2 separate regions of the Homo sapiens genome follow, and region 2 is linked to region 1. A link means that fine-mapping ties the variant in region 1 to the expression of a gene that starts in the linked region. Tissue or cell type: whole blood. Region 1 holds a variant in brackets; the other region holds the start of a gene. All regions are shown on one strand. Distances are between the middles of the regions.

Region 1 (8,000 bases):
CAGCCGACAGCTATGGCCCTACCACCACACTCAACCAGGAGCAGAACGCTGGCCCCATGGCGAGCCTGCCCCTGGCGGGCATCATCGGCGGGGCAGTGGCTCTGGTCTTCCTCTTCCTGGTCCTGGGGGCCATCTGCTGGTACGTGCACCAGGCTGGCGAGCTGCTGACCCGGGAGAGGGCCTACAACCGGGGCAGCAGGAAAAAGGATGACTATATGGAGTCAGGGACCAAGAAGGATAACTCCATCCTGGAAATCCGCGGCCCTGGGCTGCAGATGCTGCCCATCAACCCGTACCGCGCCAAAGAAGAGTACGTGGTCCACACTATCTTCCCCTCCAACGGCAGCAGCCTCTGCAAGGCCACACACACCATTGGCTACGGCACCACGCGGGGCTACCGGGACGGCGGCATCCCCGACATAGACTACTCCTACACATGATGCCCGCCCACCCGGGCTGCCCCGCCTCAGCCCCAGCTGCCCTGGCGTGGCCATGTGGCTTTGCCCAGCCTGCTGCAATCCAAGAGAGCAAGGAAGAGAAATTCCATGGGTGACTTTCCTCCGCAGAAAGCAAAGTTTGGGGAGGGCTGACGATTTTGTAGAACACAACAGTGACAATTTTTTTTAAAAGAATAGAAGGCAGGAGGGGGAATTCGACATTGTTGAAGACATAATTTATACCAAGTTATGCCAGTTGGGGAGGGAAGGACTAAAAATAATATTGCAGGCAGGGCTGGGTTGGGTTTTTTTTTTTTCCCCCCTGAACTGGAAGGATACTACCTGTACAACATCTGTGGACACCTCATGCTCTGTTCAAGGCCATCACAAAGGAACCGCCAGGGAGAAGCAGCCGGCTCTCAAAGCTCCCACGCAGCTCTCCCGCCACTGGCCACTCGCTGGCGACCCGATGGAAGGTTTTCAGGCTCCTCACAAAGGAGAGAGGGAAGAAAAGATCTTTTGCCCTGGAGATATGGTCCTGAAATCTCTCCCCTGGCTTATTCCATACCATTTCCCTTGCAGATTTGCAGAAACATGGCATCTTTCACTGCATTCTTTGAACAATCATGTAGTCGATTAAAAAAAAAAAACAAACTTTTTTTTCCTAGGCTGAAGCCCTCTTCAGTTCCATGCACCACGCTCCGTAGAAGCCCCGGCGGAAGCCGTAGCTTTCCCTGCCACCTGGAGGTGCATCTGTCTGCCTGTCTATCCCTGTCGCGGTGTCTCTAAGTACAGATGGGTAGATAGAGCCACATGCACGGTCCTTACCGTTCTTCTTGGGTCAGTTCTTACCATTTCCTGAACAATAGAATTGTGAAAGTGTTGCTTTCTCCTAGAAATCCTTGAGTAAGTAGACCGTGTGTTGGGGATGGGAGTGAGGTGGGGGAGGAGACTTGGTCTCCAGGGGCTGCTGCTGTTCCTAAAGGCTGAGGTGTGTATGTCTCAGACGGGTGGCTTAGGGAGGCGTCGCAGCTGGGGCTGCCAGTCCCATCCTGGCTCAGCTTGGCCAGCACTGGGCTGCTCTCCTTTCTGATACAGATAAAAGCTTTATTTGATTCCAGTGTCCTCGTCTCCCTCCCCCACCACGTGCAATCACCTTAACAGCTACTTTCTGAGCATTTACCATGTGCTGAATGTTCCCTCCTAGGACGGGTAATTAGCGCAGGGATTTTTTTTTTAAATATCAGCTGATTAGACCTATTGGTTTCCATGGCTGCTCAAACAAAGCCCAGAAAAAGACACAAAAATTCTCGAAAAAGCCCTGGGTGATGGCAGTCCCTCCCTGAATGTAGAAAACTCAGCTGGGCCCACCCCTGGGACTCTGTTTCTTGAGAGGGAGAGACCAGATCTCTTTCTAAAAATGCCAGCCTCCGAAAGGGCCCTGACTGGGACCCTCAGAAGAGTTAAGATTTTATTTCCTCCCTCTGGAATCCATGTCGCTATCATGCATTTATCAACTGACAGTGCAGTGTGGTGAGCCATGAGATTAAAACGATGATGAAATAATGACAGCGAATTGGAGAGGGAGGAAGAGCGGAGCCTGGGGTTCCGACGTGCCTGCGTCCCAGTACTCAGGGAGCCCGGGTCACCATCTGTCACTGTGCCGCTTGTTCTGCGCCAAGGAAAAGGAACGTCAAAGAGGAGATGCTGGTCCGAGGGCAGGAGGATGAGAGGGCTGGGAGCGCCTGGTGGTGCTATTTTCAAACGGCCTCCACCACCGTGCGAAAAGCAAAGGCAGAAGCAGCAGCGGGGCAGGGGTTACGTTAAAAGGCCCGACCGCCACCTTCAGTGAGGAGATGGGGCTGAAAGGAGCGGACACAACAGCCACGTGGAAAGTGGAAAAATGGGCACAGGCTCCCAGCACGGCCTGGGGGGGCTAGCCCACGAAATAGGTCCACTCCCCAGCCCTGGGGAACAGCCGAGCAGCGTGGTCACGTTTCACTCGAAACTAGACGTGTTTTTCCTTTTCCTGCCTGAATCATTTTCTCACACAATAAGGTCAAGAGAGAAATTTCCCCAGGCCTTAATGTCAGGTCTGTATAAAAGGCAGCCCCAGGCCGGGTGCAGTGGCTCACGCCTGTAATCCCAGCACTTTGGGAGACTGAGGCAGGCAGATTTTCTGAGGTCAGGAGTTTGAGACCAGCCTGGCCAACATGGTGAAAGTCCGTCTCTCTAAAAATGCAAAAATTAGCCAGGCATGGTGGCAGGCGCCTGTTACCTGGCTACTCGGGAGGCTGAGGCAGGAGAATCGCTTGAACCAGGGAGGCAGAGGCTGCAGTGAACCGAGATTGCGCCACTGCATTCCAGCCTGGGCAAAGAGTGAGACTCCATCTCAAAAAAAAAAAAGTAGGCCCTCCCAGTGGACCATGGCCCCCCAGCCCCGAGATGAGCAGAAGGGCCCACCTGGGATGTCTGGGAGGAGAGCGTGCCCGAGGTGTGCCACGTTGGCACAGGGGACAGAAGTCCCAGGTCTCTGCTGATTCTAAAATGAGACCACCCCTCCCTGAAGGGCACCACTCTGATCACTGCCTTCCCCCAAGTCCCGCCCATCTGCAACAC[G/A]GTGCTGCCAGCACACTGTCCCCACCTCACCTAGGTCCCCCTGTCTCCTCTCCCCACCCTAGACAGGTCAGGTCATGCCCTTAGTGGCTAGGAAGGCATCTGGGGACAGCAGGTGGCCCGGACCGTGAGAGCTGCCTGGGAAGGTCCTGCTTGGCTGGGGCAGGAGTGCGGGAGACTTAGTGCTAGAGAGCAGGCAGAGCTGGGAGCCAGCCTGTGCCCAGCCACGCCCTCCGAGACAAGGCCTGAGTGATGAGCTTTCCTCCCCTCCCATTGCACAGAGCAGGCCCAGGCAGGCAGGAGCCCTGGCAGCTGCCCCAGAGGAGCTCCTTGGGCCCCAGGACCACGCGAGTCTCCTGTTCCTGGTTCTTGCACTAACTGGGCGAGGGCGGGGCTCGGCCCCTCTTACCAGACCCTGCCTGCCTCATCGTGGGGATCACCCACCCACTGGCGCTCTAAGTGTGGAGGAAGGTAGATGCTCCACCCAGTCAGGGCCCTGGGACCCAGCTCTAGAGCTGACTTTCTCATCTTTTCTGCCCCTTAGCTATCCTGACACCTTCCCAGGGTCCTTTCTGGGCTTTCCCAGAGGAAGCCCCCAAATATCTGCTGTGTCACAGCCCCTCAGCCAGGGAGGGGCCAGAAGCTAGGTCCGTTCTGAAACCCCATCCCCTCTTGGCCCAGCTCCTCCCAGCTGGTCTCATACCACAAGATAGGAGATGTTTCAGGACACCCAGCCTCCCCTACACCTCAGACATGCGTGAGGACACAAGGCCTGGGATGCCAACCCCAGCCTGTCTAAATTCTCCCGGGCTCCCGTGCACAGCTGACATTTCCAAGGGAACGTCCGCGGCTGGGCTGACCCTCACAGCCTCTAAGTAGCCAGAATAACCTCAGCGGCCCCAGCACTGATGAGTACGTTTTGTGGCATTTAAGGCAGGTTTAAAGTTAAAGATAAAAAAAGCCCATGACGCTTCTTTGGTTAAGTGGTTTACCCTTCGTGGTAATTAGATGTAGTGATTGGAATCTCTTTTCTATTACATGGCAATTTTCCTTTAAATCTCCCCTAAAAAAAAAAAAGGAAAGGAAAGAAAAGGCAAGGAAGGAGAGAGAGAAGGCACCAGCAGGCCGGGAATCATTTGCATTTTGCGAATGAGGCCTCTTGTAAGCTCAGCTCAGGCGTGGGGCCCAATGTATGGAATGCTTAAGAGATTACTAAAAATAAAATCTATTAATTAGTCATACTCAATTCCACAGACATGATGTGCATCAAAAGCTCCTTTTCTTCCCTTTTCTCCTTCCCCCTCCCCACGGCCTCCCGCCACAGCCTCCATCTTCTCTAAATAGGCTGGGGCTTGCTCCACGCTAACATGGTGCATGCGGCGGCCAGGGGCCTCCCTGACACAGGGCCAGGATGCAGGTCCGGAGCCAAGAGCAGGGGCATTGCACCTTCCTGGCTCTGGGTGACGCTGGCAGGGGAGGGGACAGCACCTGGGAAGATGGCAGCAGCTAGGAGGGGCCCAACCTGACTCTCCCAAAGCCCAAAGCCCACACCTGCCGTGTGCCTCTTCTCCCTCCCTCTACACAGGCACCGGGTCTCCTCCTTCCCCTGGGGATCTGGGAAACCCTCCCTCTGAGCCCAGCCCAGCCCTGTCCGAACAAAGCCAGGCAGAGAGCTGAGGAGGGGGTCGGGGAGATGTTTCCAGAGCGGTGCAGGGAAAGAGGGTTTGGTGAGAATACAGCCTCTGTTTCCCCTTCTGTAAAGTGGGGGTGTGCTAGGGAGGGGTCCAGCGTCACTCAGGAAACTGGTGCTCCAGAGGCCAAGTGGGGGCCCTTCCCCGCTGCTGGTGCTGAAAGGTTCTAGCTGGCCCAAGTCAGGTGAGGGATCCCTGAAGGGTTGGAGGGGCTGGTCAGGGCCTGAGCAGAGGACAGGCTGGGACCCAAGGCTGCCTCGGAACCTGTGCCTCCCTCCTTCACCTCCGGCCCTGGAGCCAAGGAGCCAGGAGAGGAGGAGAAAGAGCAGACCCTCCCCCTTGAAAATGGCAGCTCAAGTCCCAAAGCCAGCCCACTTCAGAAACCTGCTTCCTGCTGAACGTGCCAGAGAGGAGGCTGGGGCTTCTGAGCCTTGCACTTATGAAAAATACAACAAGGAGAACTGGATGCAGCAAAGAGGGAGCAAAGGGGCGGGGAGGGCAACGGGGAGAGCAGGGGCAGTGCTGGCAGGAGGGGCCGGGCGCAGGGACCTGTGCCCCCAAGGGCCAGACCCTGCTCTCAGGGCCAGGACGCAGCCAGGGTCAGTGACGGGCGTCCGCGTGCCTCCTCATACTCGATTGGCACAGGTGACGGTGGCTGCTGCCTGCCCCTGGATGGGCGCCAGGGCAAGCACTCACAGGCGATTCGCAGCCGTGCATTGGCCTTCCGAGTGCAGAGAGGAGGCATTTTTTTTTCTTAAGGAGGGATAAAAAGGCTCAAAAATGCAAATCGTTACCGTTTACAACCAAGCAAGTCTGCTAAATTGATTAGGAGAGATTAAACTCCTTGGAGGTGCAGGGAAAGGGGGATTTTTCGTGGTTTATGAACCTGCCCCAAGTGGCTATCTGCATAGCAGGGACTTTCTGGGCCTCGATGGGTGGGGTGGGGGGGTTGGGGGTGCAAGATGGGGGCACCTGCCCTGGCTTGGCTCCCTGGGGAGCCAGGGTCTCTGAAGACAACACCAAATGGACCAGAGCACTCAGGCTTGAGGCTCCAGCACTGCCCTAGGGAAAGGGACTCAGGCCTCTGGGACAAGTGGCCCATCCAGTCCTTAGAAAGTAGGACTCTAGAGCCGTGGGCTTTTCTGCTTCCTTTCTGTTCTGGGTGGGTCTGTCTCCAATCCACTCCTTGTGGCCAGTAAAAGGGGAGTGGGTAAAGGGAAAACTGAAGGTCAGGGAAGAGAAACTCTAGCCCAGCAAAGGAAACAGGCAGTGAGCTCTCCGTCACTGGGAGCATTCAAGCACTAGATGGGGACGTGGCAGATATTTTCCTCCCAAGGTCTGGTGCTTTGACTAGAAGATCCTGGTTCCCACCCTTGCTTTCTCATCCCCCAGGACACTGAAAGGGAGCAGATATCAAGAGAAGTTCACCATGTTGTTTAAAGTCACTGGTGTCCCCTGAAAACCCCAAGTCAGGGCAGTCCTGAAGCCAGACCATCCTGCCCCACCAAAGAGCCACTTGTGCCAGCAGAGAGGCTGCAAAATACCCATCCTCAGTGTCCAAGAGGCACCAAGAAAGTACAGATACATGCCACCCCCTTTCCAGAGTCTAAACTCAGCACCTATGGCTCGCCAGAGGGGCTGACAGAGAGCGCCTCCCAGGCCCTGCAGCTCCGAAGCCCAGGCTGCGTCCTGGACCTGTCTCTTAAGCCAGGGCTGCCCCACGTGCAGTCCAACACGCTCATGCTGCTGCTGCTGCCACTGTATCTATCCATCCATCCATCACCGCCGGTGGATGGCGCCTGGGGCACTTTTCACTCTGTGGTTTTAAGCATTTACTGTTTCTTTTGAAATGTTCCAAGTAGGTGCCTGAAATACCCATATTTGCTTCTTTTTAAAAAACTCACAGAAAGATTCTTTTTGCTCTCCATCCCCTCCCTTTGCTCTTCCCCCTCCCTCGGCATTTTTAATCTGTGGGTTTTCCCTGGTTTTGGAAATTCCAAAAGTGGGGGTCAGGCCCCCTTTCTCACCATAACAGATTTGCGGGTGTGCCTGGAGACCCCCAAAGCCACAGAGCAAAGCCTGGTCTTTTTCTTTTTTTTTTTAGACAGAGTTTTGCTCTTGTTGCCCAGGCTGGAGTGCAATGGTGCAATCTCGGCTCACCGCAACCCCTGCCTCCCGGGTTCAAGTGATTCTCCTGCCTCAGCCTCCTGAGTAGCTGGGATTACAGGCGTGTGCCACCATGCCTGGCTAATTTTGCATTTTAAGTAGAGACAGGGTTTCTCCATGTTGCTCAGACTGGTATTGAACTCCCAGCCTCAGGTGATCCGCCCACCTTGGCCTCCCAAAGTGCTGGGATTACAGGCATGAGCCACCGTGCCCGGCCAAAGCCTCGTCTTTTCTCCACGTCTCCCCCGGAGACCCCTGCCTGGGACAGCTCCTGCTTCTGGTACCTGCTGGAGACCCTGGCCAGGGCCTGGCTCTTTGAGACCACTGTCACTGTCCCCTCCCGCCCCTTGTCACTGAAATGCCCGGCCTGTGCCAGGAGAGAGTGAGGGTGTGCTGAGGGCATAGGGCAACCTGTGGGTGGGATGACTGCCCCCACGTCCTAACAAAGCCAGCCCCCAAAGCACTGTGGCCATCTGAGTGGGCACAGTGCCCTGGCCCCCCTGCCTCCCCACACCTGAAAGCCCAAAGCCTAAGACCAGAGAGTCCTCAAAGGAAGGTCTTTGCTGCCACAGCCCTAAATCTCATCAAGGTAGATAGTCAGAGTCAGCACCTTGCCCTTCCCAGGGTCACTGGGGCCCAGCACAGTGCCTGGCACACAGGGGTACTCAATCCTTTCTCTGCCACCAACGGAACGAGGCCGCCTCCTCCTCTCACTTCCTCCCCAGTTGCCATCTGCCCACTCATTGAGGATGGCCCAGGCACGAGTGTTGGCAACAAACAGGCTTCTCTCGTCCTGCTCCTGCCCCGCCAGCAGCTGGCACAGAGAGGGGCTCATCTCAGCAGCTTTACCTCTTGGAAGCACCTCGCTCCACCCTGCCTTGGATCCACGTGTTGCCAGCTGTGAGCCAGATGGAGAAATGTAGCCACTCTGAGAGATCCGGTGGCTGCCCCAACCTGTGTCAGTAACTCAGTTTCCCTTCTCCAAGACTTGCCTTGAGTGGATGACAAGGGGGAGAGAACTGGGGGAGGGCCCCACAGAGGCGCTGCAAGAAATCCAGATCCCAGGCGACACCTGCTGCCTTGCCTGCTG
Region 2 (8,000 bases), 110 kb after region 1:
CACCCTGAGCCTCAGGTGAGATTCCAGGCTGGGCACAAAGACCCAGACAGCTCAAGGGAGCTGCAGCTCTCCACCCTCCCAATCCTCCCAGCTTTGGTTTCCTCATTCCTTAAAGGGAAAATTGGCCTGGTATTTCTCTGGAAGTTTGCTCAGGGCAGTCCACCTGCCTCCCCACTGACCCCTGCCCCAGTCCTGTGAGAAACTAGAAAACACGGGAGGAAAGATTGGGCACAGGAAGAAGATGCCCTACTCCACCCCTGCCCCCTGTGTATCTCCTTTGAAGCTGGACCTCTGGTTGTCTGTCAGGGAAAGGACACCAGACTCAGGATCACTAACTCTCTTACACTGTGCCACATCAGACCCTCAAGGCCAGCAGGTATAGGCTTGCTGGTCCTGAGATGGGGCAGGGGGAAGAGGTGGGGAGCAGGGGCTGAGCCTGACCTCTCACAGGCCCTGTGCCCTGGTGGCAGCCCCCAGCACCAGGACCTCGCTGGGCAGCTGGTGGTACATGAACTCTTTTCCAGTGTCCTTCAGGAGATCTGTGATGAGGTGAGTGAGGTTGACCTGGACAGGGTGGTAGACATGAAGGGAGGGGGTAGGACTTGCCAGAATTCTACAGGTCTGGGCTGGCAGGAGGCCTGCAGGCATCTGGCCAGCAATGAGGGAAGAAGTTGGCTTTGCAGCTATACATACTTGGAGTGGAATTCTAGCCCTCAGTACCCTCTGCCTTGGATTCTTCTTCTTTTCTTTTTTCTTTCTTTTTTTTTTTTTAGACAGAGTCTCGCTCTGTTGCCCAGGCTGGAATGCAGTGGCACGATCTCTGCTCACTGCAAGCTCCACCTCCCGGGTTCACGCCATTCTCCTACCTCAGCCTCCTGAGTAGCTGGGACTACAGGCATCCGCCACCATGCCTGGCTAATTTTTTTTGTATTTTTAGTAGAGATGGGGTTTCACCTTGTTAGCCAGGATGGTCTTGATCTCCTGACCTCGTGATCTGCCTGCCTCAGCCTCCAAAAGTGCTGGGATTACAGGTGTGAGCCACTGCACCAGGCCGGATTCTTCTTCTTTTTTTTTTTTTTCTTTTTGAGACAGAGTCTTGCTCTGTTGCCCAGGCTAGTGCAGTGGTGGCATATCGGCTCACTGCAACCTTCGCCTCCTGGGTTCAAGTGATTCTCATGCCTTGCCCCGCCAAGGATTCTTCTTTTCAATGGAAACAATGATAAATATCTTGCCTACTCCCCAAGTCTGTTGAAAAAGGAGTAAGTGGCCGGGCGCCGTGGCTCATGCCTGTAATCCCAGCACTTTGGGAGGCTGAGGTGGGCAGATCACAAGGTCAGGAGATCAAGACCATCCTGGCTAACACGGTGAAACCCTGACTTTACTAAAAATACCAAAAGTTAGCCGGGCGTGGTGGCGGGCACCTGTAGTCCCAGCTACTCAGGAGGCTGAGGCAGGAGAATGGCGTGAACCCGGGAGGCGGAGGTTGCAGTGAGCCGAAATCGCGCCACTGCACTTCAGCCTGGGCGACAAAGCGAGACTCCGTCTCAAAAAAAAGAAAAAGGAGTAAGTGTGGCAGGGTGTGGTGGCTCACACCTGTAATCCCAGCACTTTGGGAGGCCAAGGCCAGCGGATCACCTGAGGTCAGGAGTTCGAGACCAGCCTGGCCAACATGGAGAAACCCCATCTCTACTAAAAATACAAAAAATTAGCCAGGCGTTGTGGCGTGCACCTGTAATCCCAGCTACTCAGGAGGCTGAGGCAGGAGAATCACTTTAACCTGGGAGGCAGAGGTTGCAGTGAGCTGAGATCGTGCCACTGTACTCCAGCCTGGGCGACAGAGCGAGACTCCATCTCAAAAAAAGAAAAAAAGAAAAAGGAGTAAGTGGGAGTCCCAGTCACTAAATTGACTTCTCTTGGGTGACCTTGGGCAACGTGTTCAATCTCTCTGGTTTTGGTGTACCTGTAAAACAAACATGCCCATCATCTGACATTCTGTAATGCTGGGTCCTTGATCTACAAGCTATAAAATGCTGTACACAGGTAACAGGCGGTTTTTCATTGAGACGGGCAGGGATGTGGGCAGTGGCATTGATAGGTGGGACCTCCCCCCACCCCACCCTCCACCGCAGGTGAACCTGCCGCTGCTCACCCTGAGCCAGCCCCTGCTGTTGGGCATCGCCCGAAATGAGACCAGTGCTGGCCGAGCCAGTGCCGAGTTCTATGTCCAGTGAGTAGGCTCGGGTACATGATCCTGGGTCTTGGGAAGGTGGGTGGTGAGGAGTGGGCTGAGGCAGCTGTGGCTCCACAGGTACCCCGCAGGGGCTGGTCACCCACTAAGCCACCCTTGTGTTCTTGTCCAGGTGCAGCCTGACTTCTGAGCAGGTGAGGAAGCACTACCTGAGTGGGGGACCCGAGGCCCACGAGTCTACAGGAATCTTCTTTGTGGAGACACAGGTGCAGAGTGACAAACCATCTTGCTTGGAGGCCAGGGCTGGGGCCTGCAGAGGCCTGGCAATGCATATCTTGTAGGGGAGGTGTTGGCTGGGTCACAATTCCCTCCAGAGTCACAAGATTTGCCCTCAGTGCAAGGGAAAGGTCCAGGGACATGTTCAGCCCCTTAACATGCCTCCCTAAGGACAGTGCAGAGGTCTCTGAGGCTCAGGAATTCTGGGCACAGCCCTGGCAGGAGAAGTGGCAAGCTTGAATGCCTGGGTCTCGTTGTCTCCCCACAGAACGTGCAGAGATTGCTCGAGACGGAGATGTGGGCTGAACTCTGCCCCTCGGCCAAAGGCGCCATCATCCTCTACAACCGGGTTCAGGGAAGTCCCACTGGAGCGGCCCTAGGGTCCCCAGCCCTACTCCCGCCGCTCTGAAAATAATAAACGACTTTATTCTTGGATTCCGTTGGCATCTGCTATTTCTGTAACAGAGAGGAGCAATGGGCCCTGAGTGTGTAAGGCAGGACAAGTGACTTGGGAAAAAAAAAAAAAAAAACCCGCCCAGCCTGTGTCCCCCTCTGCAAGCAGGGGATAAGAACTGTGCCTCCCTTTCTTTGCTGGCTCCAGAGAGGCTCCGGGGCGGAAGCAGCTCCGTAAGATATACCTCGCTGCAGAGGGGAGCAACAGCGGAACGGAGACACGGTGGCCGGGCCGAAAACGTCACAAAGCCGCAGAGAGCGGGCTCTGTCCCGCCCGCTCCCCAGGTGGGCGCCCGCGCCTGTCCAGCGAGTCCGCAGGCTGGGGGACCGGAGGCACCAAAGGCCAATAGACATGTAGGGGCGGGGTCTCCACCGATTTTTTTTTTTTTCCTGACAGGTGGACGTGGTCTTGGCATCCACGCCAATGAGAATGTGAGGGCGGGGCCTGAATAGACGCAGGAAATGGCGACGGCCGCGGGTCTGTGAGCAGCGGGGGCGGGGCCTGGTTGTGGCCCCTCCTTCTCCCGTCCCCAAGTTCCCTGGGTGGGAACGGGGTCTTGGGGTCCCTGGCTGGGTGGCCAGACCCCGAAGCCAGCGCTGGGAAGGGCTGCGGATGCCCGGGTCAGAGGAAGGGGCAGGTCCAAGGACACGCGGGTCTGGTCCTGGGCAAGAACCGCCCCCTCTCCGGGCCTGCTTCAGTCTTCCTTTGCAGAACAACGGGCCAGGCCCCTTCCCTCTGCCCCCGGGTGCTTGAAGTCTAGCCCCATCCTGGTCCAATGCGCTCTTGGTAGCCTCCTTTCCCAGCTGCCCGCCCGCCGCCATGCCGCCCTTACTGCCCCTGCGCCTGTGCCGGCTGTGGCCCCGCAACCCTCCCTCCCGGCTCCTCGGAGCGGCCGCCGGGCAGCGGTGAGTTGGGCGCGGGGGGCCGGCCCGGTTGTTCAATGGGTTTCTGTTTGCCCTACGTGCTGAGTTAGTTGTGGTCTCTACTCCGTGTCAGGAGGCTCCCAGGTTTGTCTCAGGTAACCCTCGCCTTCCCTGCTGAGGATCAGAGATAGAGAAGACCCCCAAGGTCATACACCGATTTAAGCGGCAGAGGAGGAAGTTTGAGTCCAGGTCAAACCCAACGCTCTTACCACAGCTCTAGTGGTTTCCAAGCATCGCTGTATCACTGTGCATAACCCTCTGTGGGGGGTGGGAGATGGGGAGGTGTCGGGTACAAAATCCAGATTCCTGGGCTCTGCTCTGGAGATTCTGAACTGGAGGAATCAATTGGGTGGGGGTCAGGAATCAGTTTCTTTCTCTTTTTCCTTTTTTTTTTTTTTTTTTGAGATGGAGTTTCGCTCGTTGCCCAGGCTGGAGTGCAATGGAGCAATCTCGGCTCACCACAACCTCCGCCTCCCGGGTTCAAGCGATTCTCCTGCCTCAGCCTCCCGAGTAGCTGGGATTACGGGCATGCACCACCACGCCCGGCTAATTTTGTATTTTTAGGAGAGACAGGGTTTCTCCATGTTAGTCAGGCTGGTCTTGAACTCCCGACCTCAGGTGATCCGCCCTCCTCGGCCTCCCAAAATGCTGGATTACAGGCGTGAGCCACCGCGCCTGTCCAGGAATCAGTTTTTTCCAACAAGTTTTTGGACTCCACTTTGAGAAATCCTGACCTGCACTATGCCTGAAACACTCCAAAGGGGGTGCTGATCTGGAGACAGATCTGTCCTGGGACCTGTTTCAGCCCTGTCAGCTCCTGGTGGCTGAGTTGAAGGGTGTGGCCCAGAAGGCAGGGCAGAGCTAGCTTCTGGGTTCCTTCAGCCCCTGCAAGGTTTGGGACTCTGTCCACAGGTCCAGACCCAGTACTTATTATGAACTGTTGGGGGTGCATCCTGGTGCCAGCACTGAGGAAGTTAAACGAGCTTTCTTCTCCAAGTCCAAAGAGGTACCCGTACCCCTGAGGTGGGGAGGGGGAGCAGGAACTTTGAGCCAGTGGGGGTGTGCTTCAAATTCCCAGGAGTAGACCAGCATCTCTGGCGGGTGCCACATTTTTTCAGCCCTCATAGGGAGTGGCAGGTGCTCAATGGTAGGGGAAAGGCTGTGGGCAGGAGCCAGGGGTCCTGTCTGATGGGCTGGGCTTGGTTTTCTTGACCTGCCTGCCTGCTCTTGAGAAACCTGGACCAGGGCATATGGTGAATGCAGGGGGCTGGCAGGTGGGGAGGGCTTGAACACAGGAGGAAGCAGGAGTCCATGCTCTCTGGCCTTCTGAGGAGTGGGCAGGCCTGAGTGAGGGTCACTGACCAGGCAGGGCCTCTGGGTATGACTGGAGCCCTGGTGGGTGGATGTCATCAGCATGGGTCCTGGGGAGGGACAGGCAAAGGGAGATAAGGGGAGTCCTGCCCCACCCCAGCTGCACCCAGACCGGGACCCTGGGAACCCAAGCCTGCACAGCCGCTTTGTGGAGCTGAGCGAGGCATACCGTGTGCTCAGCCGTGAGCAGAGCCGCCGCAGCTATGATGACCAGCTCCGCTCAGGTAGTCCCCCAAAGTCTCCACGAACCACAGTCCATGACAAGTCTGCCCACCAAACACACAGGTACAGTAATCCTGCCCTCAGCTTGCCCCACCCCCAGGTCTCTTGGGTAGTCTCATTTCCACAATGTCCCTTCCTCTGCCTCCCAGCAGCTCCTGGACACCCCCCAACGCACAGTACTGGTCCCAGTTTCACAGCGTGAGGCCACAGGGGCCCCAGTTGAGGCAGCAGCAACACAAACAAAACAAACAAGTGCTGGGGTACTGCCTCCTCCTCATGCTGGCGGGCATGGGCCTGCACTACATTGCCTTCAGGTGATGCCTGTTCTCCCCGGGGTGATGGGCAGAGGGCAGGAGGGTGGGTGAATTCCAGTGTGGTCAGCCAGTCCTCCACAGCACCTCGTGGCCCGTACTCTTGTGTCTCTCAAGCTAAGAGCTGCTTGAAGTTGGTCTCTGGAGCCTCTCCTTACTTATTAAAGGCAGCGCTGCACCAAGAGCTAACGTTGTCATTTACAGTTTTTCATATTTCGAATGTAAATCTTTCATGCTGGCTGCCAGGAAGGGATTGAGCCAAACAAAATCAAGCACAAGCAGCAAATGCAGCACAGCTCATTCATTTGGCAGTAGGCATCTCCCTGCCACTCTCACGCGTGCCACGGAGCTGATTCTCTTTATTCTCTTTTTTTCTTTTTTTTTTCTTTGAGATGGAGTCTCACTCTGTTGCCCAGGCTGCAGTGCAGTGGCGCAATCTCGGCTCACTGCAACCCCACCTCTGCCTCCCAGGTTCAAGCAATTCTTCTGTCTCAGCCTCCCGAGTAGCTGGGACTACAGGCGTCCACCACCACACCCGGCTAGTTGTTTTGTATTTTTAGTAGAGATGGGGTTTCACCATATTGGCCAGGCTGGTCTCAAACTCCTGACCTCAGGTGATCCACCCGCCTCAGCCTCCCAAAGTACTGGGATTACAGGTGAGAGCTACCGCGCCTGGCCACAAAGCCGATTTTCTATAGCAGATACCTAAAGGCCAGTGCCCACTGCTAGCAGCCTGCCTAGTTCAGTGATGGAGTTAGACGCATACCCTTTCTAGTCTTCTGGGAGGAGCACCCCCATGTCCACAGCTGCTGTCACACCTCAAAGTGACCAGGGACTTCGGATGCCATTGGACCCTAGACAAGCCAGGGCCACTCTGAGCCCTCCCTATCTATCACAGGAAGGGTTAGACTGAGGTTCCTAACCCTGTGTAAGGGTAAAAAGCTGTGAGGCCCCTAGAGTGGGGTGGAAGGGGGCAGGACTTCAGGGACAGCAGGAATTGGATTCCCAGGGTTAATTGTGACCCATTGCAGGAAGGTGAAGCAGATGCACCTTAACTTCATGGATGAAAAGGATCGGATCATCACAGCCTTCTACAACGAAGCCCGGGCACGGGCCAGGTCTGTCCCTGCTCTATTCTGCTCCCTGCTCCCTGTCCAGGAACCACACTTCGGGATCCCTATCCCAACCACCCAGGTGCCCTCTCCTCCAGGGCCAACAGAGGCATCCTTCAGCAGGAGCGACAACGGCTAGGGCAGCGGCAGCCGCCACCATCCGAGCCAACCCAAGGCCCCGAGATCGTGCCCCGGGGCGCCGGCCCCTGAGGGGCTCACCTGGATGGGGCCTGCAGTGCGTTCCCGCTTTGCTTCCTTCCCTGGACGGCCCGCTCCCCGAAACGCGCGCAATAAAGTGATTCGCAGAGCTCGTGTCCGGCTCCCTCCTTAAGGCCCGACGCCCCCGGCCCCGGCCTCGCCAAGGGGCAGCGCCCCGCCCTCCGGGTAGTGGCGGCGGCGACTGGGGAGCCCAGCCTCCTGGGCGGTGCGTCCCCTTTCCCCTGCCGCGGCGGGAGGCGGGAGGGGGTGTGTGGAGGAGGCGGGCCCCGCCGACGGCCTCGCCCCCCCACCCCGCCGCCCCGCCCCCGCCCCACGGGCCGGTGGGGAGCGCGTGTCTGGGTCACATGAGCCGCCTGCCCGCCAGCCCGGGCCCAGCCCCCCGCCGCCCCCGCCGTCCCCGCCGCCGCTGCCCGCCGCCACCGGCCGCCCGCCCGCCCGGCTCCTCCGGCCGCCTCCGCTGCGCTGCGCTGCGCTGCCTGCACCCAGGGCTCGGGAGGGGGCCGCGGAGGAGTCGCCCCCCGCGCCCGGCCCCCGCCCGCCGCGCCCGGGCCCGCGCCATGGGGCTCTGGCTGTCGCCGCCCCCCGCGCCGCCGGGCTAGGGCGATGCGGGCGCCCCCGGCGGGCGGCCCCGGCGGGCACCATGAGCCCTCTGCTCCGCCGCCTGCTGCTCGCCGCACTCCTGCAGCTGGCCCCCGCCCAGGTACGTGCGGCCCGACAGCGCGCCCGCCCGCCCGCCGTGCCCTCTCTCAAGGTTGGCGGAAGTGAGGAGGCGACCCGCGGCCTCGGCCGAGGGGATCTGCGGGGTCCGGCCTTGGACGCGGGCGTCTCGGGGGCCCGGCGCGTGCATCCCCTGGGAGGTGCCCCTCCCCGCTGGCCCGCCAGCCCCAGTCTGGGGCCACTCCTCCGCCCCACCCCGTCCCCTGG

Evidence for each region. PIP is the estimated chance that this variant, and not a neighbour inherited with it, causes the effect.
Region 2: it holds the start of DNAJC4, and the variant in region 1 is fine-mapped to the expression of DNAJC4 in whole blood (TOPMed, PIP above 0.99).

The regions. Positions count from the first base shown.
Region 1 is chr11:64,117,853-64,125,852 of GRCh38, forward strand. All of the region lies in intron 3 of MACROD1 (mono-ADP ribosylhydrolase 1), which reads right to left. FLRT1 (fibronectin leucine rich transmembrane protein 1) reads left to right here. Exons shown (of 3, transcript NM_013280.5): 3 at 1-1,319. The coding sequence ends at 440. Among named protein-coding and RNA genes, the nearest start is that of MACROD1, 44 kb to the right of the region's middle. RefSeq lists an enhancer at 4,035-4,966. The variant G/A (reference allele first, on the strand shown) is at 3,057.
Region 2 is chr11:64,227,118-64,235,117 of GRCh38, forward strand. DNAJC4 (DnaJ heat shock protein family (Hsp40) member C4) reads left to right here and starts at 3,431. Exons shown (of 6, transcript NM_005528.4): 1 at 3,431-3,823; 2 at 4,754-4,847; 3 at 5,313-5,497; 4 at 5,587-5,748; 5 at 6,777-6,863; 6 at 6,956-7,164. The coding sequence starts at 3,738. The coding sequence ends at 7,067. It overlaps NUDT22 (nudix hydrolase 22), which reads left to right. Exons shown (of 6, transcript NM_032344.4): 2 at 1-15; 3 at 451-549; 4 at 2,130-2,227; 5 at 2,361-2,454; 6 at 2,733-2,899. The coding sequence ends at 2,873. VEGFB (vascular endothelial growth factor B) reads left to right here and starts at 7,467. Exons shown (of 7, transcript NM_003377.5): 1 at 7,467-7,776. The coding sequence starts at 7,717. It overlaps LOC124902687 (a long non-coding RNA gene), which reads right to left and starts at 4,253. Exons shown (of 2, transcript XR_007062713.1): 1 at 4,051-4,253; 2 at 2,029-2,920. RefSeq lists an enhancer at 1-335 and silencers at 3,772-3,831, 7,015-7,504, 7,725-8,000.